Homo sapiens: one gene and its partner. The protein of the gene in region 1 purifies or fractionates together with the protein of each later gene. This does not show direct contact. Each region holds a gene or a part of one and is shown in the gene's direction. Other genes may lie near its edges.

Region 1 (2,705 bases):
CTCTCTCTGGTGCCATGGCAACATTATGCCCCAAACTTCTTCCCTGGTTGGAGTGAGAGGGGCTGTCCACAGCCCCATCCTGTGGGGATCTCAAGCCGGAGTCCCTGGCCTGGCCTCCTTGACGTAGGTGTTCTCAGCAAGCAGTTTGCATCCCACCGTCTTTCTCACACTTGCCCCCAAGACTTTTGACAGAGCAGACGTAAAACAGGACTCAGAAAACCATTTTTCTCTGTTCCCATATGTAGTAAGTTTTGATTCAGTTGTGCATAAACCATAGTTTTCTGCCCTGCTGTTTGCTTTCAATGGAAGACAGTAAAGGGAAGATGGTGCTCACATCTCTCCATGTGACATCTCATTAGGAATTAAGATGCGATGGATTAGAAATGTAAAACTTCAGAATAAAATTAAATTTCAGGGCTCTATAAGTCCCGTTTTCCCAGGTCCTGTTCCGTTTCTACGTAGATAACCCAATTTGTTTTGTCTATGAAATAAGCCTCTTTAGTGGGTTGTTTTAGTCTCTCCAACAAAAGAGCAGATTCCTAAAGCCAGGTGCAGCACTGTGAAAAGTTTCTTTCAATATGGCACCAAGACTCTACCATTTATGTCTCTCTCAGCTTACAAACATCAGCGTTTTGTCCTTGTCATAGTGGAAGAAAGACACTTACTTTAAGCTTTGGGGACAAAGGTGACAAACCCCAGGCTTTTATCTTAAAAGTGTCTTTGGCACTTCTTTTGGCACTGAAATGGTATTTGGGAAGCATTATTTGAATGTACAGTTGTTTGGTTTTGTATGTGCTTATCTTTATCTGAGCTTTCACTTGTAGACATGGCCTTTTGTTGTGAAGTTGCTCATCATTTAGGAGTGTTTAATTCTAAAAAGCCTTCAGCCTAAGAAAGCTTCATCTGTGGGGACCAGAGACTTGTTGCTCAGGGAGTTAGTGATGGGACTTGGGCATCTGATCTGCAGGTGACAAGTTTAGTTCAACTGAAGTTGTAGGGAATTTAGACAGTTGCACATCATTGCCGTTCTAGGGGCCTTGTAGAAAGATGAAACAGTTGTTTTTCATTTACCAGCACCTCTCAGTTATAGAGGTAATGGAACATTCGCTTACTTTTCATCATCATTCTTTAAAAAGGGAACATACAAAAATCTAAACTATGGCAATAATTTATTTTTATAATAGTTTACGGTAGGCTTTAATTAAATGGCAAACTCCTCTGGGACCCCTAAGTTATGGCGTGATTAGCCAAATTTGATTTCCAACAGTCATTTATGGCCATAACTATTGCATAGAGTGCAGGATGCCAGCAAAGATGAGGGTGGGGGCAGATACTGGCTCAGTGATTTAACTCACATTATAGATGACCCCTTCCTCAACAGAAATGCTACTGAGAGAACCAGAGAGGCCTGGGCCAGGCAGGTCTTATTTGAGAGGAGATTATTTGATAATTGCTTTGGTTAGAAGGACTTTACATTTCCTGATTTCAAGTCCAGCACCAATTTAGAAAGTTCAGAGATGAAACCACCTGTCTTTACCTGACAGAGTCATAACGGTTTGTGTAAAAATGTGGTCAGGGACCTTTTTTGTTCTTTCTGATTAGTTAATACTGTACATTGTAACCAGGAGGGGCAGTTTTGCCAACCAGCCTCTGCTCATGGTCACCATATGTGTATGACAAGGCCTGAGTGAGTTCCTGCATAAACTGGGTAGTGGGCTCTTTTGACACATTTGCAAGCATGTAAATGAATGAATGACACTACCAGCAACCATCTGTACAGGTCCATTTACTTACATTCATAAGGTTTATGCTATGAAACTTCTTCTCATTGTGATGTCAGTAACAGAGTTAGTGTCTCTGATGGAATAGTGTACCTGTCACCCAAGTTATTTTGTTCCTTTTTGGGTCCTCCAGTATAATCCCCCCCTCATCCCAATTAACTGTAAAATGTTTTACACATCACATTTTTTATACTGTAAACTTGGAAAATAAACTGAAATATCAAATTGTGTCTTGTTTCTTTTCTTCATGTGATTATTTCAATCTAAAAAGTTGCTTACTTTTTCAGGGACATTTTTCACTCTCGCATAATTTTGAGACCTTCAGAATTTCAAGACAACCTGTCATATTTCTATAAAAACCAAGACAATTGTGATGGATTGGGAAAGTAGAATTACCATTGTAACAAAAACTACTAGTTGTCAATCATTTTACAGTGAAGAAAATGTTTTGAATAGATAACTAAAAATGAAATCCTCAGGCTCTAAAACATGGAGATGAAACAGATCTTTTGAGTAAACCAGCAAGTGGAAAGGTATTTGAGTCAAATAAGAAGACAGAAAAGTAACAGACTTTGGGTTGATGTGGGAGGTGAATATTGGATTATTTTCCTGAGTGGCTTGGGAATTCAAGTTAAATTATCAACTGATTTTAGATAGGTCTATTTAAAGGAAATTTGATTATTTGCAAAGAAATATGAAGCCTGTTTTCCGCTAACCTCAGTGGTAGAATTTTGACAGCACACAATCAAATTCTTAGCTATTGCATGGACAGAAATTAGAGAAAGCAATTGACTCAAAGATATTCATTGGTTAGATTATTGATAAGCTGTTTCTTTGGGCCATTAAGCAAAATGTACACAATTTATATCTACATAAGTAAACCCTGCTAATACACTTTGTGCTATCATTTGGATATTTGTTCCC
Region 2 (3,829 bases), on another chromosome or scaffold:
AACAAAGCTGCCGTGAACATTTGTGTACAAGTCTCTGTAGGGACATGTGTTCTCATTTCTCATGGGTAAACACCTAGTAGTAAATTGCTGGGTCAAAAAGGAGATATATGGAAACCTGAAAAGAAACTGCCAGACCTTTTCCCAACATGGTTATACCATTTTACAGTCTCACCAGCAAAGAATACAAGTATGAGATTCCAGATACTACAGCCCTGTCTTTCCTATCCTAAAGTCAAGAGCATGGTTTGACTAGTGTTCTTCTGGGGCCAGAGGGAATCTGAGGCAGTGGGGAACATGTTTTTATAGGTGGAGGGGCCATAGGAAGTCCCTGACTCTGCCTGAAAATGGGTTTAAACTTAAATCATTGCAGACGATCAGATGAATATTTTATTTTTAGAGATTTTCAGAGAAGGGAATTCCATAGGGGAATGTACCCTTGGTTGTGAAAGAAGATTGATTGAGTGCTTTCTATAAAAAGAAAAATAACCCCAAGCCCCACAGAATTTTACTAAGCTTCTGCCTAGAAACTCCCGGGGGATTTCTGGTCTATTGGTAGGGTTGATATTAACTTGGTGGAGAGTCCCCTTGGATTTCACCGGCTTGGTCAGCCGGCTACTGAAAGGGGTTGTGTTTATTTTGAGGGGCAGGTCAGATTTGGCTTTGTTAAGACTCAGAGAATGACTCTCTTGTGAAAGTGATCTGGCCTCTCAGTGAGAAACATGGCCTGTCAACACCCCTCTTATTGTCCTGACTGGGAAAATGGGCCTGTGCCCCTCGGGTCCCCTAATAACTTAGTCCCTCTCTGTGGTGCCAACAGCCAAAGCTTGCCTTGGCTGATCTAGGAAACGGGAAGTGAACTTTTCTGTCTGAGTGGGACCCCAGGATGCATGTTTTGCATCCCATCAAGGTGTCCCAGGGCTGACCAAGCTTTGCAGGAGTCAGATGGCAGACAGCTCAGTCTTGAGACATTGCACTGTGTTTGGGGACTGTTCCCTCCTCCTTAAAAGCCTAGCGCAGTGCCTGCCAGAGGGTAGGGACACAGTAAACATTGGCTGAGTGATTTCGTGACTCGTGATACCCATCTGGGTGATCGCCTCTCTGGAGGTTGACAGTGGGTGTCAAGATGTCAGGGCCCCAGGATGTATTTTACTCGAGGGCACTTTACCATGGCTTGGAAAACACATTCAAAGGGTTTGGGCCTAGGAAAATTTTGTTCAGTGTAAACTTTCATTGTATTAACACTGTTCTCTTTATTACTGATTTTAATATTGTTAATAAAATACAAATAATTATAGCTGCCACTTGCTGAGTGCTTACCCTTTGCCAGGCACTGTTGTACATTTTGCACGCATTATCTGAATTTAATCCTCATGAGAGGCGAGTACTTATATTATCTTCACTTCAGCCCTGAGGAAATTGAAGCTTGCAAGGTTAACTTTCCCTAAGTTCACGTTTTCATTTTTCTAAGACCTTAAGGGAAGAGACTGTGACATTCTGGTTTTTTGAAGGCAAAATCTGTCTACAATCACGGATTTCCAAATACACAAAGCCATATTATAATAGAAATGTAAATTAGATAATCAGAACAGCGTTACAGGAAATGATACACTGCAATCATTTTCTTTAGTTTTTTTTTGTTGTTGTTTGTTTGTTTTCATTTTGTCTTAAGCTTACTGAGTTTGGCACAGCCAGGGGCTTATACTAATTTTGATGATAATTTAAAATATTATTGGTTGATTAGGATTACAATTTTATTGAAGGAACAGAAAGACGTTGCCAGCTGAACTGTTCAATACAGTAGCCACTAGTTACATGTGGCTATTTACATTTAAATGTAATGAATTAAAAGAAAAGAAAATTTAAAATTCAGTCCTTCCGTCTCACTCACCGCATTTCAAGTGGCCCAGAGCCACGTGTGGTTAGTGGCTACTGAATTGGATAGCACAGATAGTAGTTTCATCATTGCTGAAAGTTCTGTTTGACAGTGCTGCTCTGTGGTGTTTTTTTTTTACCCTTCAGTTTAAGAATTGGTAACACACTTGGCTAGGGCTTCTGCTATTTTTCACTGACAAAGGGATACATTTAGCCAGATGTTGCTTTTGTGTTTACCTTTTAAAGGGGTGTGTGTGTGTGTGTGTGTGTGTGTGCGTGCGTGTGATCTTTCCTTCCATTCACATTCAGTTTTTGACATACGTTTGAATCTCCCTTTTCTCCTGGGCCCCAAAGGGGCTTTCATTATTAGCATTGCATGTTTTATCAAGACACTTTCTCATAAAAAATTGGTACAGCAGGCAAGCGATAGCCACTGCTTGAACCCGGCTAATTCCTTGCTCTCCAAATAAGAATTCAGTTCAGCTTTTAAATATGCAATTGTGTGACTTACTCCCTACCTGGGCTGAATTCAGGAGGAAAAATCACTCTCAGTGGGCCAGAACCAAAGAGCTGGAAAATCAGGTGACATTCTGCAGTGATGGCTCCCTGCCAGGACTGAGATGGAGGAGACACCATTTGGGGTACTTGAAAGCTTCGTTTAGAGTTTTCCTGGATTTGACCTGCCTCCGGGGTGCAGGGATTGATGGAGAAGGCTGGCAGCTTTGATGTCCCAGTTACATGGGACAGTGGAGGGCTGGTACTGTGGCTGTCACCTCTGCTGGGGTGTACAGTACTTCAGAACCAGCCTCACAGGAGAGAGGAAGCCACTCCTCAGGTGTCTGCAAGCAGCAAGTCCAGCCAGAAGTGGGAAATCAACATAAGCTATGCTTGGCTCAGTTGTTTGATGCCGACAAACTCTTATGCTACTTTAAGATCCCGTATTGGAGGTTTCCACACTTCTTCAACCAGGAAGCCAGATGCACCTCACTGACAACTTTCTCTGGCGTTTACACCTGAAATGTCCCGTCGTGTTGTTCCATAGGCAGACCTCCTTGAGGGTTACAATTTATTCTTTACGGGGGCCTATCAGCTTTCATATGTGTGCATGTGTGTGTGTATATATATGTGTGTATGTGTGTGTGTGTGTATGTATGTATGTATGTGCGTTTGTGTGTGTTTGTGTGTATGTGAGTGTATGTGTGTGTTTGTGTGTATGTGAGTGTGCATGTATGTGTGTATGTGTTTGTGTGTATGTGTGTATGTGTATGTATGTGTGTGTATGTGTGTGTTTATGTGCATTGTGTGTGTATGTATGTGCGTGTTTGTGGATGTGTGCATGTGTGTGTGTATGTGTGTGTGTGTGTGTGTGTGTTTTGAAACTCCCTACTTTGCCTTTTACCCTTTGTCCTGAGGAATCCTTCAAGTTTTATGGAATAGCGCTAAAGTTCCTCAGATTTGGGGGAACTGTTGTAATAGATTTTACTCAGAAAGTTGGGTAAGAGATTTGGTTAATCATAGACTCTGGTTAATGGAACCTGATCATATCATGTATTAGCAAATTTTGGAAATATAAAGCACAAGAAATCAGGTTGTTTATTTAAACACTTCTTTAATTTAGAGAGGTCTTTTGGGATTTTCTGGTGTCTTATGATACCTTATAAGTGCCCTTTTCAGTGTGGCATAATCATGACTATAGGCCAGAGTAGGTCAAAAGGTGTCTTCATAATGAGCAACAAGTAATCCCAGTAGAGTACTAAAACGGTTAATATTTATACTGCTCTTTCTATGTGTCTGAGCTCTTCTGAGCCCTGTTAAATAGTAACTCACCCTACCTTATTTAGTCCTCACCCTAGAAGTAGATATTGCAGTTGTCCCCATTTTACAGATGAGAAAACTGAGGTTAAATGGCTTCCTTGAGGTCACACAGGTAGGAAATAAGGGCAGCAGGATTTGAACC

What was found.
Region 2: the proteins of VANGL1 (region 1) and RFTN1 purify together in Homo sapiens (co-immunoprecipitation; one large-scale study listed by IntAct). This does not show direct contact.

Annotation. Positions count from the first base shown.
Region 1 is NC_000001.11:115,696,216-115,698,920, forward strand, and holds the end of VANGL1 (vang-like protein 1), read left to right. Parts: 3' UTR 1-2,006; downstream 2,007-2,705.
Region 2 is NC_000003.12:16,507,015-16,510,843, reverse strand, and holds part of RFTN1 (raftlin), read left to right. Parts: intron 1-3,829. UniProt on the Homo sapiens protein: Involved in protein trafficking via association with clathrin and AP2 complex.